4 separate regions of the Homo sapiens genome follow, and all the other regions are reported to be linked to region 1. The links are microRNA targets in miRTarBase. Many come from high-throughput screens and were not tested one by one. Region 1 holds a microRNA gene; each other region holds the end of a gene's coding sequence.
Evidence for each region. The annotated mature microRNA hsa-miR-3686 reads AUCUGUAAGAGAAAGUAAAUGA and lies in region 1 at 4,109-4,130, opposite strand. An mRNA with a match to its seed (bases 2 to 7 or 8) in the 3' UTR can be bound and repressed. Matches are read on the target gene's strand: a 7mer-m8 pairs with bases 2 to 8, a 7mer-A1 pairs with bases 2 to 7 and ends in A, and an 8mer does both.

Region 2: miRTarBase lists HMGN1 as a target of hsa-miR-3686. Seed matches in the 3' UTR shown: 7mer-m8 at 6,737-6,743.
Region 3: the mRNA of USP42 is a reported target of hsa-miR-3686. Seed matches in the 3' UTR shown: 7mer-m8 at 4,672-4,678 and 7mer-m8 at 5,135-5,141.
Region 4: miRTarBase lists ZNF418 as a target of hsa-miR-3686. Seed matches in the 3' UTR shown: 7mer-A1 at 3,105-3,111 and 8mer at 6,631-6,638.

Annotation. Positions count from the first base shown.
Region 1 is chr8:129,479,959-129,487,985 of GRCh38, forward strand. It overlaps MIR3686 (microRNA 3686), which reads right to left and starts at 4,184; the gene lies at 4,099-4,184. CCDC26 (CCDC26 long non-coding RNA) reads right to left here. Exons shown (of 4, transcript NR_130917.1): 2 at 685-732.
Region 2 is chr21:39,335,840-39,343,866 of GRCh38, forward strand. HMGN1 (high mobility group nucleosome binding domain 1) reads right to left here. Exons shown (of 6, transcript NM_004965.7): 6 at 6,476-7,320. The coding sequence ends at 7,273. Among named protein-coding and RNA genes, the nearest start is that of HMGN1, 9.2 kb to the right of the region's middle.
Region 3 is chr7:6,156,152-6,164,178 of GRCh38, forward strand. It overlaps USP42 (ubiquitin specific peptidase 42), which reads left to right. Exons shown (of 18, transcript NM_032172.3): 16 at 603-904; 17 at 3,299-3,342; 18 at 4,404-5,413. The coding sequence ends at 3,306. CYTH3 (cytohesin 3) reads right to left here. Exons shown (of 13, transcript NM_004227.4): 13 at 5,628-8,027. Among named protein-coding and RNA genes, the nearest start is that of USP42, 55 kb to the left of the region's middle.
Region 4 is chr19:57,921,097-57,929,123 of GRCh38, reverse strand. It overlaps ZNF418 (zinc finger protein 418), which reads left to right. Exons shown (of 6, transcript NM_133460.3): 4 at 1,077-3,501; 5 at 5,835-5,932; 6 at 6,495-7,242. The coding sequence ends at 2,974. Among named protein-coding and RNA genes, the nearest start is that of ZNF417, 8.5 kb to the right of the region's middle.

The sequences.
Region 1 (8,027 bases):
TGGGCAGTCAGTTAAGAGCCAGCCCTGGTTTAAGCTGGCTACCTCTGGCCTCCAACTCTCTCTCTGGGATACATTTAAATAGCTTTAAAACAGAGGCTTGGAAACATATAATTTTGGCAACTAGTCCAACTGCTCTGACTACCTCTAGTATTTTATGTTCTAATCAACTGACTTCATGTTTTTTAAATCCTCATATACATACTGGTGTGCAGTGATCTGACGGGCATCATGGAACAACTTTGACTTTTCCATTTGCTCAAGGATTTTCACAGGTTGATCACATCAGCAGTAAGCTGTGGGTCCCTCCCCCTTCTCCTCTGTCACAGAATTATTACCATGACTTGCTAGTTCTTCTGGAAATAGCCACTTGCCGAAGCGATAAATCTTAGGTTCACTATATAACCCCTGATGCATTTCACATTTTCCCACCAAATTCCACTGTCCAAATTTGGAGTCCCAACTTGACCACAAGCAGATACAATTTCACTTTGTGGGATTTTCCCAGCTTTTCCTTGCATTAGGATTGCAAAGCTTGTAACACCAGCTGTGTCTGAGCCAGCCCTCCAAAAAAGGCAATTGTGTTCCCTGATGGAATCGCTGCACACAAGAGCTGCTGCCAGCTCTGCTCCTTGAGCAGCCTTTTCAGGATTGTGGGGCTGCTTCCAGCCCCTCCTCCCCACTCACCAGTTAATGATGTTGGCCCCTCAAACAGCCCATGGTCCTTTAAAAGGCCTAGGAAAAGAAAGGGAAAAATAAAGCATACTCTTCCTCTCTCTTTCCCTGGGAATCCATTTTTATTTTTTTATTTTCTTCATCACCAAGATTCTCATCAATCTTGTATTTATTTCATCAATACACATTTATTTATAAATTACCATCCTTGTCCTTGGCACTTATGTTAGGGGTTGGGGAAAATAAGCTTAAACAAGGCAGGTGCTATTTCTACCAGGACTCATAAAACAACAGGGAACTGGAAATGGGATGATAATAATAATAATAATAATAGTAATACCAGTCCACAATCCCTTATCCAAAATCTTTGAGGCCAGAGAAGTTTTAGAATTCAGACATTCTCAGACCTTGGAGACATGACACGGTATATATACATTGTATGTCATGATATATATACACTGTATGTTTCACAGAATCTCATCATCAAATTTAACTTATGTAAGACAGGTAGCCTCACATCACCCCAGGTGAGATTTTGCCCCCAAAATTCATTTTGACATCCAACTTTCTATTTTGGATTTTGGATTTTGGAACTGCAGAGATGGGATTTGGACCCTGAATGGTTTTCACTTATTGAGTGTCTACTATGTTCCAGGCAATTGACATGTCTTAGCCCCTTTCATCCTCCAAAAAGCCCTTCAAAATAAACTATATTTTGACTGTTACAAAACACCCTATCTGCTAAACTTTTTTTCACACAGACTACCTTTCATGAGCATCATTAACACTGCAGCAGGATATTGCTCTCTCTATTTTAAGGAAAGGAAGCTGAGGTTCATGGAGGTTAAGGAACTCTCAGAAGGTTGTGGAGAATGTGAGTGGTAGGCTGGGAGCCGCGTCTGCTGGTGCTACCGGAAGCTCTACTGTTTCCATGATGTAAAACAGCTGCCTTTCCTGGGAGCCACTTTGATTCCACTGAACGCCCTTCCTGCCCTTTCCACTTTTGGTTCCAAAGCCCTCCCTAGTTTCCATCAGAGGTTCTACAACATGAAAATAAGTCCCACCTCACAGATTTGTTCCACGTAACATGCCCCTACTGATGGTCATTGGATTACTCTCTTCCATTGCAAAATAAATTCAGAATCAGACTTTTCTGGGGTTGAATTTTATTCCTGACTGTGACATGAGCTAGGAAAAGTCAGTTCACCTCTCTGAGAGTGTTTTCCCATACTTGAAATTGGGGGGGAGAGATAAAGTCAATAATCATTAGCATTATTACGGGGATAAAATAAGCTAATTTGTGTAAAGTGTTTAATGTGATGCCTGGAAAAGCATAAGTGCTTGACAAAGAGTAGCTATTACTGGGGCAATTATTATGACTTTTGTTATCATCGTTATTGAAAACTTATTGCTTGAGCACAATCTGGGCTAAGTAGGAAACTAAGTGAATGTGATGCAGTAGTCTATTACATTGTCACTACCTGGCAAGCCCAGTCTCTTCTGAAGAAAGCTGATCATATTATCCACAACACTGAACAAAACCCAGTGCCCCAAGAATAGGAACTTGACCCATAAACTGTCACCTAAGGTGGCTTCTGGCTTCTGAGTTCTCTTGGTACAAAGCACTTGCACACAAGAAATAATAGTGGTTTACTGAGTCTATATAAATATCTTTTTATTTGTTTCTTTTTTTTTCCAACTTTTATTTTAGACTCAGGGGGCATGTTTACAGGTTTGTTATCTGGGTATATTGCATGCTGAGGTTTGGGGTATGAATAATCCCATCACCCAGGTACTGGGCATCATACTCAATAGTTAGTTTTTCAATCCTTGTTCCCCACCCTCTCACCTCTAGTAGTCCCCAGTGCCTACTGTTGCCATCTCTATGTCCATGAGCACGCAATGTTTTACTCCCACTTATAAGTGAGAATATATGGTATTTTGTTTTCTGTTTCTCCATTAACTTGCTTAGGAGAATGGCCTCCAGCTGCACCCATGTGGCTGTAAAGGATATGATTTTGCTCTTTTTTATAGCTGCATAGTATTCCATGGTGTATATGTACCATATTCTCAAGAAATTCTTTTTAAAGGGAGATTGGATGTGAAAAAAAAATTTAAAAATCCAGAGCTCAAGCTATCTGCCTGCCTTGGCCTCCCAAAGTGCCAGGATTACAGATGTAAGCCACTGTGCCTGACCTATATCCACTATCGTGATTGCAGATGTATATTATGTCCAAACATTTAAAATTATACACTTTAACTATGTGTAGTTTCTTGCATGTAAGTTATAGCTCAATATAGTTGTTAAAACAGTTTAAAATAGCTTTAAAAAACTGTCATAGCTTGATTCAATGAATCTTTTTATATTAAAAAAAAAAGAAATACATAAAAGACCAGTTGGCCACAAGACAGTTGGCCACAAGAGGGTAGAGAATAGACATAAGGGGCAAAGAAGAAGAGGAAGAGGAAGAAGAGGAAGAGGAAGAGGAAGAAGAAGAAGAAGGAGGAGAGGAGGGAAGGGGGAAGGGGGAAGGAGGAAGGGAGAAGGGGGAAAGGGGAAGGGGGGAAGGAGGAAGGGAGAAGGGGGAAGGGGGAAGGAGGAAGAGGGAAGGAGGAAGGGAGAAGGGGAGCATTTATAGAAGCATGGGCAATAGTTGCAGAAAGAGAAAGAACTCTGGTCAGATCATCAAAATGCCAGAGAAGAGAATTGAACTCCAAAGTCTGTGCTCTTGATCTCTACAATAAGGGCCACAGATCCTCATGCCTCTGGGGCCAGTCGAGTAATAGAAATGAGAGGTGGGTGCCTGAGGAAGCCTATGTGAAAGTGGAGCGTGCACAGCCTTTCAAAAGGGGGAAGCCACTAGTGTATTTTGATAAATGGTACTCTGTGGGAACATGAGCCAAATTTATCAGGTCTTCTGACTTTTCAAGAGAAGACAGGAATTCAGATATCCATGGGAAAAGTCCAGTGTTTTAATGTTTAAAACTAATTTGGTCTTTTTTAATCACTGTGCAGGCAAAAATACATACACACACACACACACACACACATCATTTTTGGGTTAGATTTAGTCTACAGACCTTCAGTTTGAGAATACTGCCTTATACTATCAGCCATAAGACAAGGGAGATGTTTGGTGCAATGTCCAAACTGCCTTCTCTGACCACATATGCAAACAAGAAAGGAGAAGATGTGCTATCAGCCCAATGAGAAAATATCTCAGAGTTCCAGTTGAACTCTGAGAGAAGAATCCACAGAAGATGTTTCATCAAATGGCCCAAGCCATTTCATAAATCCAAAAGGAGAGCATATGTGTGTTTCTGGTCAAGATACAGTAATAGAGACTAGATTTACCTTCCCCTTGAAACAACTAAAAAGCCAGCATTTAAAACACATGAAACATTTTTGAGACATTGAACCTAAGTCTCACCTCTTTCATTTACTTTCTCTTACAGATCACTGTCCAGTGCAGAAAAGTGATCTGTAAGAGAAGGTAAATGAATGAGGTGAGCCCTCTGACTGCCCCAGCTGACCGCACAGACAGTTTCCAGGCCACAGCACAGGGAGAGGAATCCCCATGGAGCTGGGTGGTCCCACTGAGTTGAGATGATGGATCTGAGAATGCAGGAAACCAAAATGGCTGAAGTTTGAAGAACAGAGCACTACCACAAAGAGAGCTACCTAACAGAGGCACCAGAGATTCTACAGAGTCCTCCTTGAGTCTTTAGCTGTGCACTAATCAGCACATGCGTGCAGAGACTTTATGAGATGAGGGTGGGGGGAAGCACCAACAAGGATTAGAGAAAACATTCCCTGCCACGACACTGGCACCAGGAATAATTCTTTTTTCCAGTAACCTAAGTGGAAAACCTCATACTTCACGGAGTATTGGGTAAAATGTTCAGAATAGTTTTGCTACGTAATGAAAAATAGATAAATTGTCACTCTATCTTGCCTTTAAAAGCTTAAAAGCAAAATTCGAAAGTATCAGACAATAACAATTGTATACCACTGTGAAACCATCACCACAATCAAGATTACGGGGAAAATCATCAATCCAAAAGGTTCCTCCCACCTTCCTCCTCTCCTTCCCATTTTTGGACTCTCCCCCTGCCCTTCCCTTTTCCCCAGGAAAACAATGATCTGGTTTATCCTCATTATGTAAAGTAGTTTGCATTTTTCAGAACTTTGTTGAAAGGGAATTAAACAGTATGTGCTCTTTTGTTATCTGCTTCTTTCACTCAGCCTGGGGGTTTTCAGATTTATCTATGCTGTTGCCCATGCCCATTGTTCACCCCCTTTTATTGTTCTCTAGTACTGCAGAGAATGAGAGAGTATTTCCATGGCTTAGCAGGTTTGTCCTCTGAGTGTGCGGGTCTGTAAGGAGAGCAGTGACTCTCCAAAGGGAAGGAGCATTCTACTTCCTCAAAGCTGAAAGTCAGAGATATAACATGTGCAGAAAGCCAGGAGGGCACAGGAGGAGTACAAAGCCAGTCGTGGCTATCCAGAAACAAATGCCAAAGGCTGAAGCAGCCTTCCAAGGACCAGGAGGGAAGAATTTGGAACAAATGTTTACCACTGTGTGTAGGGGTTGACCAAGAAGCAAGAATAAGGAAATTTGTTTTTGACCTTTGGAAAATGAAATTTAGAGTTTGTTTGGAACACTCCAGGTAAATAATAGTTACTCAATCTCTGACCCAGTTGCAAGAAAATTTCACCTGCTGTCTCTGACTGTATTTTATATATATATGTAATATATTACATATGTATATATTATTATATATTATATATTTATGTATAACATAATATAAATGTATATATCATATATGTAGTATATACATATATAGTATGTATACATTTATCATATATGATACATATGTATATGTATATATACACACATATGTATATACATGTATATGTACATATACATATGTATTATATATAATACTATACATATTATATACATAATATAGTATACATTATATGTGTATTATTATATATTATCTATAATATATGTAATGCTAAATGTAATATATCATAGATTATGTTATATATATCATGTAAATATTATATGTTATATATTATATATTGATACTATATATCAATATATGGTGTATAAATATAATATATACCATGTATTATATATATAATGTATAGTACTATACATATAACATAACTGGAGAACTGGTTAAGAATGATTCTGAGTTTGCACAGAGATTGAAAGAATAGTGTTTTAGCAGTGGCTGTCATAGGCAGGAGATAAGAGAATGAACAGCACAGATGTTCCATTGTTGCCGTTCCTGCTCAAAGGTTTCTCCAGTTGGAGACATGAATTCATTATTTCCTTTCAGAAAAAGACCTCTCTTTGATACTCTTCTCCTTTTTTTTTGTATTTTTAGTAGAGACGGGGTTTCACCATGTTAGCCAGGATGGTCTTGATCTCCTGCCCTTGTGATCCGCCTGCCTCGGGCTCCCAAAGTGGATACTCTTCTCCTTAATCCCTCACTCATTCCAGGAGGCACAGAGCTTCCTCTAACTAACAATAAGGCAACTGGATGTGGAGCTTCTCAGTGTGATTGAGGCTCCCTTCGTGCCATTTCACCTAATTGGGCCTCAGTTTCCTCATCTGTTACATAGACCCATGTTAAAATACATGATCTAAACTTAATAGTAAAATAAGTAATTATATTATAATAAATAAAACAAACACAATTATTTTTGTCCAATATGATGTTTCCCTATTGCAGACTTCTTATGGGCTTTTTAAAAACCAGAAATTTAATCAATTCACATTTCAGATTGACCAGTTACTTTCCCTGTTCACTTTACTCCCCATCTGTACGAGTTCCGTTCTCTACGGTGATTAAACATTTTGCAAGGATAAGAAAAATTGTTTTTGACCTTTGGGGAATTAAATTTAGAGTTTATTGTTTGGAACGCTCCAGGTAAATAATAGTTTATACAGTAATAAATTGTGTAATTGCATTTAATCTGTGCCTAGAGGCCAGGAAGCACTGCAAATCAGTACATTCCAAATAAGGCTCTCTCATTCTGGGAGGCATTGGGAACCCGCTGCAGTAAGGACATCTGTTGATGCAGCACGCATTTCTCCAGAGTGCAAAACCATGCAGAGGCCTCGGGTTTGGTCCACTTTCAGTCATTGCCATTCAAGTGATGAGGAGGACTATGACAAATTATTGGGGGTAGGAAACACTGGTCCTAGGACAGAAAATCAAAAGATTCTGAACTGTAACCAAAAGCAGACTAAGGGCCAGCTTTGGGAATGTGTTTCCAAACCCAGGCAACGGAATCGGTTGAAAAAAGCCATAGAGTAAGAGGAATGAGATAATTCATTGAGGTTTTAGTCTGCAACCTCCAGTCACAGGTGTGACTTGAATAATGCATTCCTCCTTTCTTGGCTGGGGGTAAGAAAATACAGTGATTGAGATGTGTGTACCAGAGTCAGATTGCCTGGGTTTGAATCCAAGCTCTGGCCTGTCCTCTCCCTGACCTTGAGTTCTCCAACCCTTAGCTTATTTGTCTGTAATATGGGACCAGTCAGACACCTTCCTCATAGGACTGTGTGAAATTAATGAAGAGATGCCTAGGAAGCACTATATTGGCAATAATAATAATGCTCCATTTACACCAGGGATGAGGTCTTCAGCATAAATATGTTCTTCAGACAACTGAAATGTCATCTTTTCTCTTAGCAATATTTTTTTGTTTTTATGAAAACATTGTAAAACATACCATAAACTTTCCCACATACTAAAACAGGGTATAAGAAAAGAACATAATATTTGGAGTAAGAAAATACGGGCTTTGGTCTGGCTTTGCCACTTCATAGCTGGGGGACCCCGAGGTATGGGTGTCTCTGAGCAGCAGTTTGCAGCCATTTGAAATGATGCTTGCACGTCATGGAGCTGACAGAGGAGATATAGGTGATAAATGCTTTGCACACTCATTTGCCAAAAAAAAAAAAACCGTTGTTTGTTTTTCTTGGCCATTTAAGACCATTGTTATGAACATGGATTGGTATACCGCAGCATGATTACGTTTTTACCTCATGGAAGAAAATGTAAAAAAGCACCATGTGTTCACATCATGAGACTGCCATCCTCTTGGGACACCAGGCGTCCATAGCAACTGACATGGTACTTTTCCTGTGCTCACTGCCTGGGAAATATTTGTGAAATAGATGAAATAATCATGCTGTCTTAAAATAGTGACTTTAGTCTTTCCTTTTAAAAGAAATTATGTACTAAGTATTAAAAATACAAGTCATACTGACCTACATATAAAGAAGTTAGTTTTTTTTAAAAAAACCACCCAGCATCACATCACCTAAAAA
Region 2 (8,027 bases), not on the chromosome of region 1:
TTTTTGATACCAACCAAGAACCACAATGAGACCTGAAAATGTGCGAGAGCAGCGCACCCGTCCACCAAAGCACCTAGGCTCTGCCCATCCCGGTATCTAGGAGACTGCTTTATTCATATTAGCTCAATTAAGTTCGTTGAATTTAATATTTCATTCATATTGTCTTTAAAAATAGATGAAATAAGGAGAACTGAAGCAGAAAGTGAGAAATCATGTGATGACCTTTAAGACTGTCTTAAATATATTTCTTTTGAAAATCTAAATGGGCACTGGTGGAAATGACAATCTTGCACGTTTTAATATGCAACCACATCCTTACATAAAAACAGCCAAGCATGCAAGACTCCCAATCTTTCTTCTCTATGAATCATGCATAACAGATTAGTGTATTTTAAAATTCTCATACATAACTTCAATGTATTATTAGTATTTGTACATTTTTTAAATTAGAATTTTCTAAGGAGTAACAACATTAAGTGCTTTTCAGAGATAACATTTGTAGTATAAAATTATATATAACTTTTTAATATAATTTGCAGTTATGGATTAAATCTAAAACACAAAAGTAATCTTTCTTTACACTTAAGGATGTAAGGAAACACTGAGGGACTTAACAAAAGCCACTCTCTAACAAGACAGCACAGCCAGATTTTATGAGTACGAGTTACCCATTATAATGCTCAGCTTAAGGTTAAATTAAGTGTAGTTTCAAAGGCTTTCCTCAACACTATATATTGCTGTGAGGTGGTGGGAGGCGGGCAGGAATCTGCCAGGAATCTAGTAATTGTAGGTTCTGAAAATCACTCAAGAAAGAAAGCAGACGTTTATGGTGCACTAACTGCCAGGCCCCGCATCATCCACTCTGACCCTCTGGGTAAAGTATTATCGTCTCTTCAGTTAAGCCCATTACCTATATCCTTAGCCCCTTCTGTTGTCAGGTTACCTTCATTTGCAACCGAGAGGTGGTGGAATGGAGCTACAGATGATGGTCCCTTGCCCTGATGCCGATCCGCGTTCACCCCAGCGAGTGTCTCGTATCTTCGTGCCGTTTCCCTTCAATTCCATCACTAACCATGGCACTATACATCTCCATGCCCTCAAAAAATCTCAAACATCTACCTACTTTTTTCCACTGGAAAAGATTTTTGTGGAATCAGCATCTGGAAGCTAATATGTAATTCTTTTTTCTTTTCTTTTCTTTTTTTTTTCTGTTTTGTTTTGAGACGGAGTCTCGCTCTATTACCCAGGCTGGAGTGCAGTGGCGCGATCTCGGCTCACTGCAAGCTCCGCCTCCCGGGTTCACGCCATTCTCCTGCCTCAGCCTCCCGAGTAGCTGGGACTACAGGCGCCCGCCACCGCGCCCGGCTAATTTTTTATATTTTTAGTAGAGACGGGCTTTCACTGTATTAGCCAGGATGGTCTCGATTTCCTGACCTCGTGATCCGCCCGCGTCGGCCTCCCAAAGTGCTGAGATTACAGGCGTGAGCCACGCTAATACGTAATTCTAAAGTGGAACTAGCCATGATGGAGATATATATATATATATAATATATATAATTTTTTTTTTCCCCTGAGACGGGGTCTAACTCTGTCGCCCATGCTGGAGTGCAGTGGTGCGGTTCAGTGCAACCTCTGCCTCCCAAGTTCCAGTGATTCTCCTGCCTCAGCCTCCGGAGTAGCTGGGATTACAGGCACCCGCCACCAGGCCCGGCTAATTTTTTTGTATTTTTAGTAGAGACAGGGTTTCACCATGTTGGCCAGGCTGGTTTCCAACTCCTGAGCCCAAGTGATCCACTTGCCTTGGCCTCCCAAAGTGCTAGGATTACAGGCATGAGCCACTGTGCCCTGCCGATTTTTTTTTTCTTAATAGCAGCTTCTTTTAAAATTGAATTTGTATCCAATCCTGAGAAAATGTCCAATACTACAAAGGTAAATGAGCTTTTACTCCTAAATATTTGTTCTTATGCATTTTGTTCCTTTTCAGTTTTGTATTTGTAGATATTATTTTAAAAATATCCACTCTTATTTGCTTCCAAAAACGTTGATGGCTACTGGGACTGGTTGCCTGGTACAGGGGCTTCGGTATACTGTACTGTTGGCATGAGCAGTATTATCCCAAATAGAGTAATTTTTTTTTTCTGACAGTCTCGCTCTGTCGCCCAAGCTGGAGTGCAATGGCGCTATCTCGGCTCACCGCAACCTCCGCCTCCTGGGTTCACGCCATTCTCCTGCCTCAGCCTCCCAAGGAGCTGGGACGGCAGGCGCCCACCAGCACGCCCGGCTAATTTCTTTTTGTATTTTTAGTAGAGACGGGGGTTTCACCGTGTTAGCCAGGATGGTCTCAATCTCCTAACCTCGTGATCCGCCCGCCTCGGCCTCCCAAAGTGCTGGGATTACAGGCGTGAGCCACTGCGCCCAGCCCTTAATAATTATAAAAAAAAGTGTAATGGCCAAATTATGGTTTTGCCACACGATGAACTATTAAGCAAGTATTAAAACATTTTACAGTTAAGGAAAAACCCAAACATATGAAGAAAATTCACCCTAAAATAATTGCTTTTAGCTTCTGGGATTAAATGGTTTTTTTGTTTGTTTTTTGAGGCAGAGTCTTGCTCTTTCGCCCAGGCTGGAGTGCAGTGGCAGATCTTGGGTCGCTGCAACCTCTGCCTCCTGGGTTCAAGTGATTCTCCAGTTTCAGCCTCCCAAGTAGCTGATACTACAGGCGCCCACCACAGACTAATTTTTGTATTTTAGTAGAGACGGGGTTTTGCCTTGTCGGCTCGGCTGGTCTCAAACTCCTGACCTCAAGCTCAAGTGATCTGCCCACCTTGGCCTCCCAAAATGCTGGGATTTCAGGCATGAGGCACCATGCAGGGCCCCTAAATGGTTTCTTACTTTATACTCTTTGAGGTTTTAAAAAATGTAATCCTAGCTTTCACGATCTTGAAATAAAAACAATTGTTACCAATTGATGAGCTGCTTCCCATCATCTTTTTAAACCTAATGTTTAGAAATTCTCAATTCTAATTCTCAAAATTACTTGGTGTTTCAACCAAGTATTTCTATTGCAAACTCATGGAACAAATGGAGATTGTGATAAGCAGATACATCTTTAGGTCTATCTGTGTGGGTTAGCAGAGATTAGTTTTTAGTTTGACAATTCTTGTTTTAATGCGAAAAAGTCTAAATGTCTGACAAATTATATATTCTTGAAATAAAATACTACACAGTGCTTACAAACGCTGTGTAAGTGTATTCACTGAAATGGGAGAAAGGTCACAGTATGATAAAGACTACAAAATAGGATGTACAAGCATAGAATAGGATCTGAGAAAAATGCATCTTTAAATAGCTACTTAAATAGCTGTTTAAGTGAATTATGGGTGATTTTAGCTTGCCTGCAGTTCCTGAGTTTTTTTTCCAATGTGTATTAATTTCTCCCCTATGATGACACACATATTTCTCATCCCTGCATCTGTCCATCTCCCCAACCTCATCCCTAACCCCACAAGACTTTTATACACATTTCCCAAACTGCTACAACAGAACAGAACTTCCCCCTGGGGCCTCCATGATTACCATGAATCCAAGTACTAAGTACCAAGATCTGTGCCTTAAATCCTGATTAACCCACATTTGACGCACGTCAAGCTCAATCTCTGAGAAGTCAAGAGAATGCAGGGTTCTTGTTCACTAGTTTTTCTAATCAACCAATTGCTGTCTGATAAGAAGTTCTCTTCCTTATACTTTTAGATGTCTGATATTGGTACAGCCAGTCAACCATTCTCATCACTCAAAAGTACTGTCGACTCTGTTTAAACGGCAAGATATTAACTTTCTGTACTGATCCCAGAAAACATGCCTCAAAGTGGCTTTTGAGACAAGATCTTTGTACCCCAGGCTGCAGTGCCATGACACAATCACAGCTCACTGCAGCCTTGAAATCCTGGGCTTGTGATCCTCCTTCTTCAGCCTCCTGAGTAGCTGGGACTACAGATATGCACCACTATGCTTGGCTAATTTTTAAAATTTTTTGTAGAGACTGGGTCTCGCTGTTGCTCAGGCTGATTCTGAACTCAGGCTCAAGCAATCCTCCCACCTTGGCCTCCCACAGCACTGGTGTGACTGCCACATCCAGCCCCCAAGGTGGCTTAGTTAAAAAAAATTTTTTTTTTCCTTTGACAGTTGAAGTCGGTTTATCATAAAAATATGTGTCCTGGCCAAGGCGTGGTGGCTCACGCCGGTAATCCCAGCACTTTGGGAGGCCGAGGCGGGCGGATCATGAGGTCAGGAGTTCGAGACCAGCCTGGCCAACATGGTGAAACCCAGTGTCTAATAAAAATACAAAAAAATTAGCCGGGTGTGGTGGCTCACGCCTGTAATCTTAGCTATTCAGGAGGCTGAGGCAAGAGAATTGCTTGAACCTAGGCGGCAAAGGTTGCAGTTAGCTGAGATCGCACCACTGCACTCCAGCCTGGGCGACAGAGTGAGACTCCGTCTCAGAAACAACAACAAAAGGTGTTCCTTCCTGTGGGTAGGATTTAAAAGAAAAAAAAAAAAGGAAAATGGGCAGCCTTAGGGCTAGCAAACACCCAAGTAATAGGTCAGATTTAACAAGGCAAGGCTCGCTCCAAAAAAACTGTAGAAAAGCCTAACGGAGTAGTTCAAGGCAGGATCTTAAAGTACTTCTGTTATGCTTTTCTACAATGTTTTTGGTATTCTATAAGCCAAAACCCTTTACCTGTTTTAATTTGTAAGAAAAACTAGTGATTTCTTTAAATATATCATTACAACGAGTATTCAACGATTAAGAAAATCTGTGATTTGAAAACATCTATTACCACCGTCCGGGGTGGGAAGGTTGGGGATGACAACTAACTAAACACTGGCAGATGGTTCTATGGTTAAAAGGCTTATCAAAAACTCATCTATTCTACCTATACTTCAGAGTTAAAGGCAAATCTGTTCATCACCGTTTCAGGCCTCCATCGTGTAATGACCAACAGCGCTCAGGTGGCTCCTAGTCCTTCCCCATCCCCCAAGGGTTATCAAAGCTTCTTTGCCGTCAGTTCATGACACATCACTATCCTCTGCATTTGCTTTTACTGTATCCTCACTATTCCCTATAAACTCTGCTCTGGCAGTCCGTGCAGAGATCTATGATCCCATAGGGCTTGTTTTTAAAGGATTCTTGCCTACTGATCAGCCCACAGGCAAAACAACACACCAAGTGTACAGAGGTTTAAATTCTGTTCCAAGGATCCCTATTTAGTGATAACCTCAACAAGGTCTGTTCTCCGGCCGTTTTCACTGTTGCCAAGTCAAGAGTTGCCCCACACCACCTCTGAAGACTATACTTAAGAGGGCAGAATGACAACAGAATGTATATGAAAGCAAATCTGGAAAATACATACCATACTAGATTTAGTTGTAGCTTCTTTTTTTGGGACAAGTTTCACTTGTCACCCAGGCTGGAATGCAATGGCGTGAACTCAGCTTACAGCAACCTCTACCACCTGGGTTCAAGCAATTCTTCTGCCTCAGCCTCCTGAGTAGCTGGGATTACAGGTGCCCACCACCAAACCCAGCTAACTGTTTTATTTTTAGTAGAGATGCGGTTTCACCATCTTGGTCTCAAACACCTGACCTCAGGTGACCTACCCACCTCGGCCTCCCTAAGTGCTGGCATTACAGGTGTGAGCCACCACACCTGGCCTATCTGTACTTTTTTTAACCTCATACGAAGAGTTAAGAATTACGTATTTGCTTTGATTCAAAGGATATTGGATTGTTTTTCCCTTAAACCAATATAGTCAAGCAACTTCAAAGGACATAGATACTCAAGCAGTTATGTCTCAGGTATCAACCAACAATGAACCACATAATGGTCCCATATTATATACTGTACCTTCTCTTTAGATACACAAGTACTTACCATTCTATTACAACTCCCTATAGTATTTACATAATAACATGCTGTACAGGTCTATTGCCTAGGAGCAATAGGTTAAACCATACAGCTTACATAGGTAATAGGCTATGCCACTGAGGTTTGTGTAAGCACTCTCTATGATGTTCACGCAAGAAAACTGCCTAACAATGTGTTTCTTAGACTGTATCCAGTCAGTGGTGACCCATGACTGTATTAAACAAAAATTCAAACATTTCACTTAAAAAAAACAACTTTGGAAGATCAAATATGGAATTTTTTTTTTTGAGACAGGGTCTCACTCTGTTGCCCAGGCTGGAGTGCAGTAGTGCGATCTGGGTGCGCTGCAACCTCCACCTCCCAGGTTCAAGCGATTCTCCTGGCTCAGCCTCCCGAGTAGCTGGGATTACAGGCACCTGCCACCACACCTGGCTAATTTTTTTTTGCATTTTTAGTAGGGACAGGGTTTCACCATGTTGGCCAGGCTCAAATGTGGAAATTCTGTAAATAAAATTTAAACCAGAATTTAATCCATGTGCTTCAAAATATTTTCATAACTGAGATTTTATTGGTTGAGGATCAGTACAGACATTTCAATTTGTACACAAATCTTAACATACGTAACGAAATTCTAAAAAGCCATGTATTGTAATTCTTTTTTAAAGTTATTCCAGTGACTTTCCAGCTTAAAATTTGGAAGCAAATTTTCCTTAAGAGGCTATCAAGTACCAGTATCTTCACGTTGGTCAGCTGTTACATACGGCCCACCAGTTCACAACTCAACAGCACGTACACTACATGTTCAAATCTGTAATCTTTCACAGCACAGTAACAAAGTTATTAGGAAAACAGGACTACCACAAAGATGTTACAGAGTGCACACAATTCTGGCAGAGAGAGCCATGATCAAAGAGTGGTTTTCTTTAGGAAACAATTCTACTAAAAAACAACATGGTAATAGAAGTAATTTAAAATGTTCAAGACATTAAATGCAGGACTGACTCCATATTGCCATTTAATATGCTTTGTATTATAGGATATAAAAACTAACCCCCCATCTGTGGAATGTTAAGCTGACACCCGAGACAGTCAGAGCCTCCCATAATTCAATATCCCACACTATTTTCTGGTTGTACCAAAAAATAAACAACCAGCAAATGATTTCACCTCTTAAAAAAAAGCATTTACACTTAAAAAATGGGATGAGGTGGGATTCCCTCCTTCTTAAAAATGTTTCTAGAGCTACTAAAAAACTTGCATTTACAAAATAGTTGATAAAAATATTCCTCTGGATTGTACAAGAAGGGAGACAGGGACCACTGATAAGACATGGTATATGGTTATTAATCAGACTTGGCTTCTTTCTCTCCTGCTTCATCAGAGGCTGGACTCTGCAAAAGAAAGGAAATTGAGATCTTTAGCATTTAACACGTTGTCGTTTTATTTATATGCAACTATCAGGTCTTTAAAAAAGTCAATAACCTTTGTTATTTGTAAAGTCACCTACCTACTCTTGTTAAAAAACTTTTGTTAACCACCCCCTCACCCCAAATCAATACTTGCAGCCCTTCCATGGTCATGTGCATGCATCTACAGAGCAGGAAAAAATGTTGAGTTGCATCACATGTACACTCCAAGCTGAGGTCACTCTGTCTTCTTGTTTCAGCTCTAATGCCGTAAACAACTGTTTTTCCGGTCTACTTAGTGCCACATATTTTACACCTTTGTGCTTTTTACTGATGATTTTGTTGTTTAAAATGGCCCCCACGCATCTTGTTCAAGTGCTATCTAATGTTGCTCAATTCAAGGCTGTGATGTGCCACACAGAGAACGTATGTGTTGGAGGGCTTTGTTCAGGTACAAATTACAGTGCTACTGGGTAGTGAGTTCGATGTGAATTTAACATACATTAAGGCATGTCTAAACAGAAATACACATGTAACAAAGTCACGTATTTTCAGTTGATGAAAATGTTGTGATCAGAGGTTTGTAGGAACCCAATCCTGTACTTCCCCTATGTGAAAACGGTTTCATACTTGTGGCAGCCTTATATTAATAGAACACAGCTATAAACAAGGGAAACCAACTGTAATTTGAT
Region 3 (8,027 bases), not on the chromosome of region 1:
TGAAACTGAAACCCTGGGAAAGATTACCAAAAGCCATATGGAAAATAGGCAGTGGTTATTGGAGGGAAAAATAATATTGCTGCCAGGTGTCTCAGGCACATGGGAGGGAAGGAGGCTTAGTATTTCCTTTCCCTTCAAGTAACTACTGGTTTCGGGAAAAGTTAGCAGAATCCTCCCTGCAGTGTTTGTCCAACAGCCTTAGTTCCTGAGAAAGCTGAAGCAGAGATGGGACTGTTCAGGATGGAGCTAAAGTTGGTGAATTTATGGCCCTGGACTGAAACAGTCATTACAGTGAAGGCAAACTTGTTAAATTTTTGAGACAGGGTCTTGCTCTGTTGCCCAGGCTGGAGTGCGGTGTTGCAGTCGTAGCTCACTGCAGCCTCAATCTCCTGGGCTCAAGTGATCCTCCTGCTTCAGCCTCCCGAGTAGCTGGGACTACAGGTGTGCGCCACCATACCTGGCCTACGTGGCTAATTAGATAAGAATTGTGCGTGTCTGCACAGTGAATGTTCTCGGTGAATGGGTGGAAAGGCCAAGCTCCAGGGTCTGCTGCTGGTGGTTTTGTGTTTTAGGGTTTTGAATTCTGGCTTTTCCTTCTGCAGGCATCAGCAGGACTCAGACCTCTCAGCAGCGTGCTCTGACGCTGACCTCCACAGACACAAAAAAAAGAAGAAGAAAAAGAAGAGACATTCAAGAAAATCAGAGGACTTTGTTAAAGATTCAGAACTGCACTTACCCAGGGTCACCAGCTTGGAGACTGTCGCCCAGTTCCGGAGAGCCCAGGGTGGCTTTCCTCTCTCTGGTGGCCCGCCTCTGGAAGGCGTCGGACCTTTCCGTGAGAAAACGAAACACTTACGGATGGAAAGCAGGGATGACAGGTGTCGTCTCTTTGAGTATGGCCAGGGTAAGAGGAGATACTTGGAATTAGGAAGATAGAAACTATTTCTTAATACATTTTCTTTGCAAAGGTGATTAACATGTAGAAAGAAAACCTCAGGTGGCATCAAAGGGCACAGTTACTCAGAGCACCCCTGCCCTGCCTGGTCTGGCCTCAGTGCTCATCCCTGCAGTGTGGTTCCGTTGCACAGTTAAGCCCTTAGCGTTTATTGAAGGCCTAAGTGACACAGGACTGAGGGCAGCACTACCTGTGTCACCAAAGCCCTGGAACGTACAGCTCTAGGCATCTGACTTTGCCTTGCAAAGGACCAGAACTCTTGGTTTGGTTTGGTTTTATTTTATTTTATTTTATTTATTTTATTTTTTGAGACGGAGTCTTGCTCTATTGCCCAGGCTGGAGTGCAGTGGCGGCGATCTCAGCTCACTGCAACCTCTGCCTCCCAGGTTCATGCTGTTCTCCTGCCTCAGCCTCCTGAGTAGCCGGGACTACAGGCGCCCGCCACCACGCCCGGCTAAATTTTGTGTTTTTAGTAGAGACGGTGTTTCACCGTGTTAGCCAGGATGGTCTCGAGAACTCTTGGTTTTAAAGCATTTTTGATAGAAATACTTTTGCAGCGTATACGTTACTCTCCCGAATCCTTAAACCTGTAGCATTCTGAGTGCACCCTGATGCTCGGTACTGATTTGCTCGCTTGGTTCCTTAGAAGCGTGGGCACCAGCCTCTGCTTGAGTGACACTGCAGAGGCCTCCATGTGGCAGAGCGCTGGCTGCCCCTGCCAGGTGTCCTGGATTCTCTTCTGCCCTGTGGGGCTGTGTCTCCGTCCTGTGGCCACACGCTGTGCTCTTACTGCACTTGAGGCAGCCCCCCACTTCCTCTCCCGTTGGTGTCCGGTGACCGCTCACCCTCGAGAGGAGCTGTGAGCCTGTTAGAAGCGGATGTCACTCGAGTCAGTGGACCTAGAGCGGAGGCTGGCAAACTGCAGCCCTGGGGCCAACTTCGGCCAGTCACCAGACTTTGTATGAACTTGGAGTTAAGAATGGTTTTAACCTTTTTAAGTGGTTGGAAATAATCCCAAAGAACAATGCGTTTCACATGAAAATGATGTGAAATTCAGACCTCAGTGTCTGTGGCTTGATTGGGGCGCAGCCAGGTGCGTTCCCACGCTGTCTGGCGGCTTCGCTGTCACTGCCTGGCAGAGGTGAGTGGCTGCGGCAGGGCAGGGACCGTGTGGCTCGCAAAGCGGAAAATGTTTATTATTGCCCCTTGACAGAAAGGGTTTGTCACCCCTGCCTGGACGCCCATTGTTTGTGTTCACGTGTGAAGCGCATCCCCTCCTCCCAGGGGCTTTTGACGAATCTTCAGGGCTGCCCTGAGGCCTTTTGCTTCTCGGCTGAGTTGTGGGTTAGGTGGAGCTGTGTGTTCTGGGGAAGGCCTGTCCCTCCCAGCAGCCCAGAGCCAGCATGCATTGTTGATTGAGGGGTAAACGGTCCTTAGAGTGTGTGAGAGAGAGCTGGGGGTTGCGGGGTGAGCCCCATGGGGGACATTTGCCCATGGAGTGCTGGGGAAACAGCCGGAGATGAGGACAGGCACCAGCACTGCCGGTGAGGACGGGTTGCCTGCGGGCCTTGTAGACGTTCTGGACATTTCAGAATTGGTTTTGCGTTCCCATTTCAGCGAATCGGGGAAGGAGATTCGTGAGGGCTGCTTGGTACCCGAGGATCCGAGGATGCAGTGGATGGGCTCATTCTGAGTGTGGTGCAGGCTCCCAGGATCATGGGCTTCCAGCTGGGGCTACTGGGAGACAGTGATGGCCCCCGAGGCAGCTGGTCCAGCGGGAGGGAGGTTGAACGTGATCTTGTTTGCCTCGTGTCTCGGGTGCTGTGGTCAGGCGTTGTCTGTGTGGTGGCCCTGTGTTTCCGTCCCCGTCCCACTGCACCGATGACAGGGTTTGCAGCTGGCGCTTCTGCTGCGAGCAGACTGAGGAGCCTTTCTTGTCCTTCTGAGAAGGCCGCTGCCCGGCCCCGCCTCACCCAGCGTCCTGTGGTCCTGCGGGTCCCCCTCTACCCTGGACTTCGGCCCCTTGTCTTTCTCTTTCAAACTCCTCCTCTGGCTCTGTTCCGCCCAGTTCAGTTCTTGGGCCTGATATCTGTTCTAACATCAGGCTGCGTGTGGGTTGGATGGAGCCCTCAGTCATCACGTAAACCCTTTGACATCAGTAAAACCCTGGGAGCAGCCGCTGAGCGCTGGGACATCCCTGCTCACCTCACTGGGGAGTGGCCTCAGGCGCTCACAGGGAACCGCAGTGACTCTGACCATAGCCACTTAACGCACACACACAGCAGAGGCCCTGGCGATTTTGCAACCATCATTAAAATCTCTTTCCTGACCTTTGCTTTCTAGGTGATTGAAAACTCAGCCTCAAAACAAAAAATTCACTAGTTATGGTAAGCTGTTTTCCTGTCTGTTTCCTCATTGTTTGTGGTGGCGCTGAGGGGACGCAGGCAGAGGAGTTTTAATTCTGCGGCTCTGCCTGGGGGCTGGGCTCATAGGAGTTGGCAGAGCCATGGAGAGGCCCCGGCAGGTTCCCAGCCAGCCCAGACCCAGGCCACGCGCTTGGGGACAGACCTAGACCCTCCACCTCATCACGTTTGCATTACTGGCTGGGGAAGACCCGCATCCTTCACGCAGGCAGAGTCGCCCTGTTCCCTTGTGCCTCACTTGGGAAAAGCCAACCCGGCTCACAGCGGCAGAGCCCACGGGCCTTTGATAAACATCTGGGAAGGGAGAGGCCCGGTCCCCAGCACAGGCACCTCACTCAGGAGAGCGGAGCCTTGCTCCCTCGTCCGTCCCGTCCCCTGTGCTGCTGTCTGCGCCCCGAGGTGGCACTGAGCTGGAGCCAGCACCCCCCCAGCAGCCACCGTACAAAACCATAGGAAGGTGGCCCAGGGCCGGGCGGCAGATCAGGACCTCGGAGCTGTGGGGCTTTGTTGGATCACTTCACACAGCGGTCCTGGGAGAGTCACTGGTTTTATACCTGACCCTTGTGGAGCTAGAGGGGACAGTGAACCATTTTTCCCTTGAAAGGAAACTTTGTCCAAATGTGTCTGTCACATGTAGTCAGCAAGAGGAATTTAAAATGAATTGCCAAGTGAAGAGTCTGTGGATTAATTGGCCGTTAATTAACAGGCTTTATCAATGTGTCCTCAAGGGAGAGGCCCAACCCTAATTAAGGAGCTAAACTTCCTGAGTGAGGGGCTGTGAGGATGGAGGTGGAGGAGGCATCTGGGGCGGGTGGTGGCCGGGCCCAGCAGATGGCGCCTCCCTGGCTGAGCTGCCCGCACCGCCAGTTCCCTCATTTCCACTCAGGAAGGCAGAGAAGGCAGAGTGATCTCCTCAAGGAAGAGCTTCCCCAGCCTTCGGGAGCAGCTGGCAGGGCGTCCGGGAATAAGCCCTACACGCCGCCGCCTGCCTCCAACTCACTAACCCTGCGCCTCTTGTCTTTCAGATTCAACGCGTTCAACAGAAGCCATCCCCAGCCCAGCTTAAATTATAAAGATAGACAATAACTCTGTTCCAATCTGCGTGGTGCTTCTTTAGTAAATACTGTACAGATTTTACCATGGAGAACTTTTTTTTTAGTTTTTACCTTTTCTTAATTACCCTTATTCCGAATGGACGAACACTTTCTACCACTGCTGACCATTGTAAAATACCGTGTATATAAATCCCATTGAAATAATGCCCTGGAATAGAACATCTCAAATGCTGCTTAATTACAGACTCAGGTCGATTACTTGTATTTCATGTAATGTTCCTCCAAGTTAGACATCTGGTGCAAGACCAACCGGGAGACCATGGAATTGTCAAAAGTACAAACTGACAGTGTGTATATTTAATTTAAAGACTTATTTAAAAACTCACAAGCTCTCACCTAGACTTTGGAGAGCAGTCTGTTTTCTGTAATGTCTGATACTAGAAACTAATTTGCTTATTTTAGTTGTATTCAAGATTTGAAGATGTATTTTATAGACAAGTTCTGTTTTTGAACTTTGTGGAACTGTTCCAATCAATCAATTTCCCAGTTATGATGAGTATTTACATTATGAATGTATAACCCAGACATGATTTGTAAAGCCGACAGTATGTTTCTATTACACAACACTTTTTGATACAGCGTCTCTTGTCTTCACTGATACTGGAGTCTCCGTTGTCTGCTTGGTCCCTTCGAGTTTCTAGTTACAGACACAATCATACTGTGATTTTATTTTTAATATGGATATGCTATCAAACTGTGATACACTTATAATTCACTGGTCCTGCATCAGGAGATGGAGTGGGGAAAACTGTATTTAATACAGTTTGTATCTGAATAATCTGTATGGTTTATACAGTTTGTGTTGTTCAGAGATGTTTAAAGTTTGATCTTTGTTTTTCTAAAGATTAAAAAAGCACTTGCCCCACTGTAAATATACAGCATGTAAAATTTCTATAGTATATAAATGGCAGCAAATCACACACTTGGCGTCTTTTTACTGTTGTTTTCCCCATTTGCTTCCAGACTCCTTCCTGTCATCATCTGAATTCACTTTCTTAAAACCTTCAAGTAAGTGCTCCTGCCGAAGTCGGCACCTTCGGCCAGGCCATCCCACCTCGGACGGGCAAAGGAAAATTGGAGGGGTGTTTGCTGGACCCAACAATATCTGTTTTAAAGAACCAAGTCTTAGGCTTGTTTTAACAATACATGTGATTTTTATTTAGTGAACACAGTATCTGCAAGAGCTCTGACAGCCATCCACCCTCCAATCTTACTTCACTTTACAACCAAGTATCAATAGAGGCTGTTCCTTCATGCGAGCTGTGGGAGTATATACATCATTGAATAACAGACACTCCAGAAATCAACAGATGTACATTATTTACATATTACTATATTTACCGCAAATAGAAATATTTTCTAAGAAAAAAAGTCAATTTGTGGTTTCTGGTCTACCACAGACCTAACTTCTCAGCAAAGCATATCTATGTAGATATCTGCGTTTGTAACTTTAAAAATAGGCATTGCTTTCTATGAAGCACTAAGTGCTGCTCCATCTATAAATAGCTCCTATTTTCAGTTTGGTACCACATTAAACTGCCCCAAAATGTTCTGTGACCCCAAAGACACAAAGTTGCTGCTTATCTGGGTCCAGGGTCAGTACAATTAAACTCAAATATGAACCAGGGCGGCCAGCAAGACAGGCTGGAAGGGCTGTGGCAGTCGCCGCCGCCTCCCCGCGGGGCTCCCCTCACTGCCTCCTGGCCTCTGTCTCTGGAAAAAAGTATCTTTGGCCAGAGTTGGGACTAACAATTCAAGCCCTGCGCTCAGACGTCAGGGTGGGGAGGAGGAGGACTGTGATTGTGACGCGGCCTGCCCAGGGTGAGGGACAAAAAACAGATGTGTCCTGTTTCAGGGCCGTCCTGGTAGCGGCTGGCCCTGCGCAGTCACTGACCCAGAGTTTTCTGGACCAGGCCTGCCTCAAGGATCAGCAGGCATGATGGTCGCACAGCCTTCATGCTAATACTGTCCTAACACAGCCTGGAGCTAGGCGATTTCCTTTGACCACAAAGTACCTGGAGTCTAACTCAGCACCACAGCCTCTGCATGGCTCCCAGGTGCCCACCACCTGGCGAAGCTCATTCACAGATGACAGCAAAGGGGGAGCTTGATCATCTGGCGACTCCTTCCTGCTGCTTCTCCCAACACCCAAAACAGAAAGCTCTGCATCCCCAGGTCACACCTGGGTTGGTCAGAAGAAGGAAACAGCTTGTCCGAGCACAACATGCTGACAGAGCTGGCTGTGGCCAGTCTTGGGTGCCGGGCCAGCCTGAGGGGTGGGCACCGCCGGAGCCGGCCGTCAGTGTGTGGTCTGGGTGGGGGTCCAGGCAGCATTTATTTTCATGGAAGACTGGAGGCCAGAGTTGCATATCTACCAGTCAGGCATTTCAAGAACGCTGACTTGCCTTTCTCAGAACTAAAACTTCCGATTTGAGGTATCAGTAACAAAGCCTAAGAACGTGGGAATGAAAGTCTGATGCAGGACAGGGGTTTCTGGCCTCGGACCCCTCTGCAGTCTAGTGTGACTTAAAGCTACATCAAGGTCAGCCGCAGGGAGGCGAAGGGCCCGCAGCCGCTCGGCCTCCACTTCAAGGCAACTCAAAGAACAGTCTCCGCTGCTGAGAAGGAAACCTAGGTGCACAAAGTCTGAGGTTTTGTCTCTGGACTGGGCATTTTGCACAGGAGTACAGATGCCCTCCAGAGGGTGCAGATTCAAGGTGTGTGTGCCTATGCAGGTGGGGCAGGAAGAGGAAGTCCATAGAGGAAAAGCCAGCCACCAACCCAACAGCCCACTGTGTAACAGGGTCCTGGGGACGCAAATCTCCCGACAGAGAACAGCGTCTGCCACCGGCCCGGGTCGGCCCAAGCACACAATGCCCCCGGTCCAGCCCTGAGCCCTCTCTGTAGGTGGGGCCCAGATCCAGCCTTCCTTGAGCGGAGCACTGGGCACCTCCTATCCTTACATCCACAGCAACCTGACAACCTCCCAGGCGGGCGTGGAGTTTGACCAGTTCCACCACCGGCGTCTATCTGGGTTCTCTACGTGCCGGGCCTCTGCACCCCAGGGCCTGTTCTTCCCTCCTCGTAGGGAGGGCACCTCTCTCAGGACACGGCGCACTACATGGGGTGAGACTGTTTTTAGTTAATTCTGTGTCTATTCATTAAGAAATCTGGTCAAATTAGAAAGTCTGTAAAATAAGCGTTCATTTTGCCACAGGTTTTAAATAGCGATGAATATGGTCAAAAGCCGGTCTAACCTGCTGACCTGTATGAAACGCTGCCATGTGTGTGCATCTAAACAAAACATCAGCAGTTTCACGTGGCTCAGCGTATGGACCATCTGTGTCCAGGGAAAAGGCTGTTTCCTAGGAGTTAGCAGTTACAGCCTAAACACCCCCAAACCATTAACTGTTATAATTTTAATGATTTGCTTAAAGTATTTGTGGGGCCAAAAAGCCTGGTTGAAGGGAGGCCTCATGGGAGTCACCCTGGAGCCCCCAAGTGCCATGGCCGTCCCTCCCCCAGCCCGTCCCG
Region 4 (8,027 bases), not on the chromosome of region 1:
TGGACTCCACATCTCACCCATTTATTTTCTCATGTTTACTTCTAGAGTGCTGTCCGATACTGGCATACACATTGTGTATTAGCAAGTGTGTACAAATTGTGTTTTGTTTTTGGTTTTTGTTTTTGTTTTTGAGATGGAGTCTCTCTTTGTCGCCCAGGCTGGAGTACAGTGGCGTGATCTCAGCTCACTGCAAGCTCCACCTCCTGGGTTCACGCCATTCTCCTGCCTCAGCCTCCCGAGTAGCTGAGACTACAGGCGCCCGCCACCACGCCCGGCTAATTTTTTTGTATTTTTAGTAGAGACGGGGTTTCACTGTGTTAGCCAGGATGGTCTCGATCTCCTGACCTCGTGATCCACCCACCTTGGCCTCCCAAAGTGCTGGGATTACAGGTGTGAGCCACCGCACCCGGCCAAGTGTGTGCAAATTGTTAAACTGTTCTGACCAAGAGCTGTTGTCTTGTAAATCATTTTCTTAGGCCTGGACATAGCCTTCTATATAGCATTAACATGTCATCAGATAATTTCCCGCAGACAAGTGGTTTGCAAAGGAAAGAGTTATACAGCAGGTGCATTGGCTTACACCTGTAATCCCAGCACTTTGGGAGGCCGATGTGGGTGGATTTCTTGAACCTGGGAGTTTGAGACCAGCCTGGGCAACAAGGCGAAACCCCACCTCTACAAAAAGTAGCTGGGCGTATTGGCCTGTGCCTGTGGTCCCAGCTACTGTGGAGGCTGAGGTGGGAGGATCACCTGAGCCCAGGAGACAGAGATTATGCCACTGCACTCTGTGCTGGATGACAGAGTGAGATCCTGTCTCTCAAGAAGAAAAAAAAAATTGTAGACCTTGGCTCAATTCTCTGTGTTGCATGTATGCTAATGCCCTTCATATCATGAGGCCGACATTCTGTGACCTTTATAGCCCAGTAATGATAGCCTCATCTTCCACGTGAAGCCAACTTTCTGTTCCTGCAAATATTTCCATGGAGTAATTCCTTGGTTTGTCAGACACGCTTGTGGGTGGGCTGTGCCTTCCCACCAGAGTTAACTTGAATTCATCAGCATTTTCTTGCTTTCAGGTTGTTGGTGTGGATCAGAAGATGAGGAGGCACCTTCTAAGAAGAGCATTTCTATACAAAGAGTGTCTCAGGTCAGCACTCCTGGGGCAGGTGTGTCTCCCAAGAAGGCCCACTCTTGTGAAATGTGTGGCGCGATCTTGGGAGACATTTTGCACTTGGCAGATCATCAGGGGACACATCACAAGCAGAAACTGCACAGGTGTGAGGCATGGGGGAATAAATTGTATGATAGTTCAAACCGTCCGCACCAGAATCAGTACCTTGGAGAGAAACCCTATAGAAGCAGTGTTGAGGAAGCATTGTTTGTGAAGAGGTGTAAGTTCCATGTGTCAGAGGAGTCATCTATCTTCATTCAGAGTGGAAAGGACTTTTTGCCCAGCTCAGGATTACTGCTGCAGGAGGCCACTCACACTGGGGAGAAGTCAAACAGCAAACCTGAGTGTGAGTCTCCCTTTCAGTGGGGAGATACTCATTACAGCTGTGGAGAATGCATGAAACATTCTAGCACCAAACACGTATTTGTTCAACAGCAGAGACTTCCCTCTAGAGAGGAATGTTATTGCTGGGAATGTGGGAAATCCTTTAGCAAATATGATAGCGTCAGTAATCATCAGAGAGTTCACACTGGGAAAAGACCTTATGAATGTGGAGAATGTGGGAAATCTTTTAGTCATAAGGGCAGCCTTGTTCAGCATCAGCGAGTTCACACTGGGAAAAGACCTTATGAATGTGGAGAATGTGGGAAATCTTTTAGTCATAAGGGCAGCCTTGTTCAGCATCAGCGAGTTCATACTGGAGAAAGACCTTATGAGTGTGGAGAATGTGGGAAATCTTTTAGTCAAAATGGTACTCTCATTAAACATCAACGAGTTCACACTGGAGAAAGACCTTATGAGTGTGAAGAATGTGGGAAATGTTTTACTCAGAAGGGCAATCTCATTCAACATCAACGAGGTCACACTAGTGAAAGACCTTATGAGTGTGAAGAATGTGGAAAATGTTTTAGTCAAAAGGGCACCCTAACTGAACATCATCGAGTTCACACTAGAGAACGACCTTATGAGTGTGGAGAATGTGGGAAATCTTTTAGTCGAAAGGGACACCTTAGGAACCATCAGCGAGGTCACACTGGAGAAAGACCTTACGAGTGTGGAGAATGTGGGAAATCTTTTAGTCGAAAGGGCAACCTCATTCAGCATCAGCGAAGCCACACTGGAGAAAGGCCTTATGAGTGTAGAGAGTGTAGGAAATTATTTAGGGGCAAGTCCCACCTCATTGAACACCAGAGAGTTCACACTGGAGAAAGGCCATATGAATGTAATGAATGTGGGAAATCATTTCAAGACAGCTCTGGGTTTCGTGTTCATCAGAGAGTTCACACTGGAGAAAAACCGTTTGAGTGTAGTGAATGTGGGAAGTCATTTCCTCAAAGCTGTTCCCTCCTTCGACATCGGAGAGTTCATACTGGAGAAAGGCCTTATGAATGTGGAGAATGTGGAAAGTCATTTCATCAGAGCTCTTCCCTCCTTCGACATCAGAAAACTCACACTGCAGAAAGACCTTATGAGTGCAGAGAATGTGGGAAATTCTTCTCCAGTCTCCTTGAACACAGGAGAGTTCACACTGGAGAAAGGCCTTATGAATGCAGGGAATGTGGAAAAACATTTACTCGAAGGTCTGCGCATTTTAAACATCAGAGACTTCATACTCGAGGAAAGCCTTACGAGTGCAGCGAATGTGGGAAATCCTTTGCTGAAACCTTCAGTCTTACTGAACACAGGAGAGTACACACTGGAGAAAGGCCTTATGAGTGCAGTGAATGTGGAAAATCATTTCATCGAAGCTCTTCTCTCCTTCGACATCAGAGAGTTCACACAGAAAGAAGTCCTTACAAGTGAAAAGAAATTTGGGAAATTCTTTAGCTAAACCTCTGTGCATCTTCTTGATCAGAGGGTTCTTACTGGATCAGGACCTTATGAGTGTGACAAACGTGGGATATTCTTTATGCAGAAGTCTTGTTTTATTACATACAGAAGAGCTCCCACTGCAGAAGGGCCTCTTGAGTGCGATGAATGTGAGAAAGCCTTCTGCCTTCTGTCATTGGATAACAGATTGTTCTCATAAGGAAAACACTGTACACGTACAGGAAATATTATTTCTTGTAAAACATAACACTGGAGGAGATGCCTTATGACGGAGCCATCTGCCTAAATTGACATACCTTCAGCATCTGCATAAACTCAATTATGTTGGAGCTGTGTGGCATTTTTCACCCTGCCGGGTTCCCTTGCCAGACATGATGTCGGTTATCTGGCAAAAGCCATTTTATGTCGGCCACGAGGCAGGTGTTCACTGTGCATCATTCATTCACCCCATGATGTTCTGGAAGTAAACCTTGGTTGTCTTTCGTTGGCCAGAGGAATTGGTGAGTAGTCTCAGCTGTCATTCCTTTCTCATTTCTTTCGGATGAGCGAGACCATGGATCTGTCTCAGTACTGGTCCAGAGGGGTCTTCTGTCAGCTTGAAAAGATGGACTACCTTTTTCAGGGACCTTATGGGTCTCATGTGATATTTTTTTTTTTTTTTTGAGACAGAGTCTCGCTCTGTCGCCCAGGCTGGAGTACAGTGGCGTGATCTCAGCTCACTGCAAGCTCCGCCTCCCGGGTTCACGCCATTCTCCTGCCTCAGCCTCCCGAGTAGCTGGGACTACAGGTGCCCACCACCATGCCCAGCTAATTTTTTTGTATTTTTAGTAGAAATGGGGTTTCTCCGTGTTAGCCAGGATGGTCTCGATCTCCTGACCTCATGATCTGCCCTCCTTGGCCTCCCAAAATGCTGGGATTACAGGCGTGAGCCACCGCACCCAGCGGGTCTCATGTGATTCTTTAGGCTCTTAAGTTCCAACCAAAGAACATTCTGCTTCCCATTGCTCTGATTTGTGCAATGAATAAGGCCTTATTGTTTAAGCTTCCTTCAGTCTTGAGAGTTGTATTTACTCTTTCGGGTGGTTTGGAAACAACTGGGTTCTGGTGTCATAAAGGGGCAGACAGCTTTTGTTGGGATCACTAGACTTTGTGTGCCTCAGAGGGGACAGTATGATGACAGAATATACTGTCTCTTCACTTGTGGCATAGTTTTCATGGCTGCCCAAGGCCTCCAAAGACTCCAGAACTTTGTGGTCCTTATTTGTTGACTAGATACTCCAATAATTTCTGGGTTTATAGATAAACCTGAGAAGGGAACAGTGTTTGTGACATCCTCTGATGCTTCTGAGATCGACACGAAAATTTCCTCTCTTTTACAAGGGATATTGCATTCTGCTCAGTACTGCTGAGGGAAATCTGTTCCCTAGGTCCTGGAATGCAGCCATGTGCTCTGATATCCAGAGTTTCGTAGTGTGGTGTCCCAGGTTATGAGATTATAACAGGAAGTCATAATTTATAGAATTTCTGCATTTATAGGCAGTGGAGGACACTGCAAGAACAGAGTTGGAATGCACGTCATCCACATTGATTCAGTTACTATGTATGTGGTGGACTGTCAGGTACAGAAATTCTCAGAACCTCCATAATTATGAATCTTGTGTAGCTGAGGCCATTGTCAAAGGAAATAATATAAAGGATTCGTGGATTCCTGTACCCTTTCTCGGCTGTTCACCTCAAGGCAATTCCTGCATTGGCAGGAGGAAGAGGATAGGGAGAAGGGAGATCTCTTAGTCCAGTGATGTGGTCTTTGTGACCAACCAGTGTTCCAATTTAATCAGGTGAAAATGGCCTTCCTGGCTTATCAGTATTTGCTGCCGCAGAGACTCATTGCTGCACTTAGGACATGAGGAGATTTTGTATAGTTGTCAAGCATGTTTGTCAAAAATAATAGAAAATCCATGTTTTTCTTTTTTTTTTTTTCTAAGACAAGGTGTTGCTCTGTGACCCAGGCTGGAGTACAGTGGCGAGATCATAGTTCACTGCAGCCTCGAACTCCTCAAGCAATCCTTTTCCCTCAGCCTCCCAAAGTGCTGGGATTACAGGCCTCAGCCATCATGTCCAGCCCACATTTTTCTTTTGAATCAATTCTTTAAAGCCATAATAAGGAATAAATGACATTCTGTAAACTATACATATTTAAACTGTACCATGTGGTAAGTTTAGACTTTCATAGAAACCCATGAAAGTGGCCAGGCACGGTGGCTCACGCCTGTAATCCCAGCACTTTGGGAGGCTGAGGCAGGCGGATCACGAGGTCAGGAGATCGAGACCATCCTGGCTAACATGGTGAAACCCCGTCTCTACTAAAAAAATACAAAAAATTAGCTGGGCGTGGTGGCAGGCGCCTGTAGTCCCAGCTACTCGGGAGGCTGAGGCAGGAGAATGGAGTGAACCCGGGAGGTGGAGCTTGCCGTGAGCCAAGATCGCACCACTGTACTCCAGCCTGGGTGACAGAGCAAGACTCGGTCTCAAAAAATATATATATATGTGTATATATGTGTGTGTGTGTGTGTGTGTGTGTGTATGTATATATATGTATATATGTATATATGTGTGTGTATATATGTATATACATGTATGTATATGTATGTATATATGTATATATATGTGTGTATATATGTATGTGTGTGTATATGTATATATATATATATTTTGCATCCCTTGGCATAAATGGGTTAGGTAAGTGTGTCACTAAATAGAAAAATACTCCCGTCTGCAATGAATTAGAAAGTTGCTTTTGATTCTTTCTTAATTTTTTTTGTTTTTGAGACAGAATGTCCGTCTGTCTGCCCAGGCTGGAGTGGCACGATCTCAGCTCACTGCAGCCTCCACCTCCAGGGTTCAAGCGATTCTCCTGCCTCAGCCTCCCGGGTAGGTGGGATTACAGGCATGCACCACCATGCCCGGTTAATTTTTGTATTTTTAGTGGAGATGGGGTTTTACCATGTTGTTCAGGCTGGTCTTGAAGTCCTGACCTTGTGATGATCTGCCCGCCTCGGCCTCCCAAAGTGCTGGGATTTCAGGCATGAGCCATAGTGCCTGGCCCTTTTTTTTTTTTTTTTTTTGAGACAGTGTCACTCTGTTGCCCAGGCTGGAGTACAGTGACACAATCACAATTCACTGCAGCCTTGACCTGCTGGACTCAAGTCATCCTCCCACCTCAGCCTCCCAAGTTGCTAGGGACAGGCATGTGCCACCACGCACAGCTAATTTTTAAAATTTTTCTGTAGAGATTAGGTCTCACTATGTTGCCCAGGCTGCTCTCAAAACTCCTGAGCTCAAGGGATCTTCCCACCTTGGCCTCTCAAAATGCTAAGATTACAGGATGAGCCACTGTGCCTGGCATGCTTTTGGTTTTTTTCTTGCAATTTAACAAAGTGGTGTCCCATATATTTAAGTATCAAATGTATAACTGAATTTTCTTTCTTTTCAGGGATCTCAAGGGCATTTCCCTTTGCCCACCTCACCTTTTCATATTTGGTAAACTGTATGCATTTGCCTCCAGCCCAAGATTATAAATATGAACTGATTATGATCTGCATGTTCTCTCTTTGGGTTCAAGCATTTCCTTACAGAAGAGCCACCGTGGAAGTCATGGGTAAATATGTGTTGAATTGGTAACTCCCTCTTGGAGAATTTCTTGTGAATTACACAGCAATAGGGGAACTCATTTAACTGGAGACATAATCTCAATTTGTAAAGTGTGGCCCATTTTCTAACATTTTTATTTTGCATACCCTCCCCTCTCTTCTCGATTGATGAAACTAACAAAGAGGTTAATAAAAGCCCATCTCGTCATGTACAGGGACTCATGCCTTTAATTCCAGTGTTTTGGGAGACTAAGGCAAGAACATCCTGGAGGCCAGGAGTTCGACACTGTATAACAGATATATCTGACAGCAGTAACTCAAGCACACCCTAAGAATGACCCTGTGGTCTAAGAAGAGTGTTGGTTCAGCGTTCCAAACGAAGAAATCCAGGAGTGGCCAACCTGGAGGTTTCTGAACCCCTGGCCTGTTCCTTGGAATGAGGCCCTTTGTTTTGAGCTAGGCGGAGGGTGATAAGTGAAAATACTATATAAACTGCATGCTTCTTTCAAATGATAGTGGTTTTTTTGTCCAGCCTGCCGCTCCTGGACTGCCCTGTATCTAAGTCCTCAATAAACCCTATGTCTCATTTTCTTTCTTTCTTTCTTTTTTGAGATGGAGTTTCGCTCCTGTTGCCCAGGCTGGAGTGCAGTGGCGTGATCTCGGCTCACTGCAACCTCCACCTCCCGGTTCAAGCGATTCTCCTGCCTCAGCCTCCCAAGTAGCAGGGATTACAGGCATGTGCCACTACACCCGGCTAATTTTGTATTTTTAGTAGAGACGGGGTTTCTGCGTTTTGATCACGGTGGTCTCGAACTCCCAACCTCAGGTGATCCGCCTGCCTTGGCCTCCCAAAGTGCTGGGATTACAGGCGTGAGCCACACGCCTAGCTCTATGTCTCATTTTCTAGCTCTGGCTCTCATTCAGTTCTTGGACATGGTGCCATCCTTGTTGAAGTCAACAGGGTAGGGATCAAGCATGATAGAGACCAGCCGGGCAACACAGCACAACCCTGTCTCTACCAAAACAGCTGGGCATGGTGGCAAATGCCTATAGTCCTAGCTGTGTGGGAGACTGAGGTGGGAGGATCATTTGAGCCCAGGGATTTGAGGTTACAGTGGGCCATGATTGCCCCATTGCACTCTATCCTAGACAGCAGAGTAAGACCCTGTCTCTCACCTGGCGAAATTAACAGAAGCTTTTCATATTACTTTGCTGAAAGCTCTTAAATTGGTTTTGCTTAACCTATAAACAACTCCTTTCAGAAAACAAGTATTCCGTTGTGAGAAAATTACCTATCATGCCATGAGGTTGGATGGAGGATTGTATGAACCAACTTAATTCAAAAGGGATCGACCAAGCATGGTGGCTAACGCCTG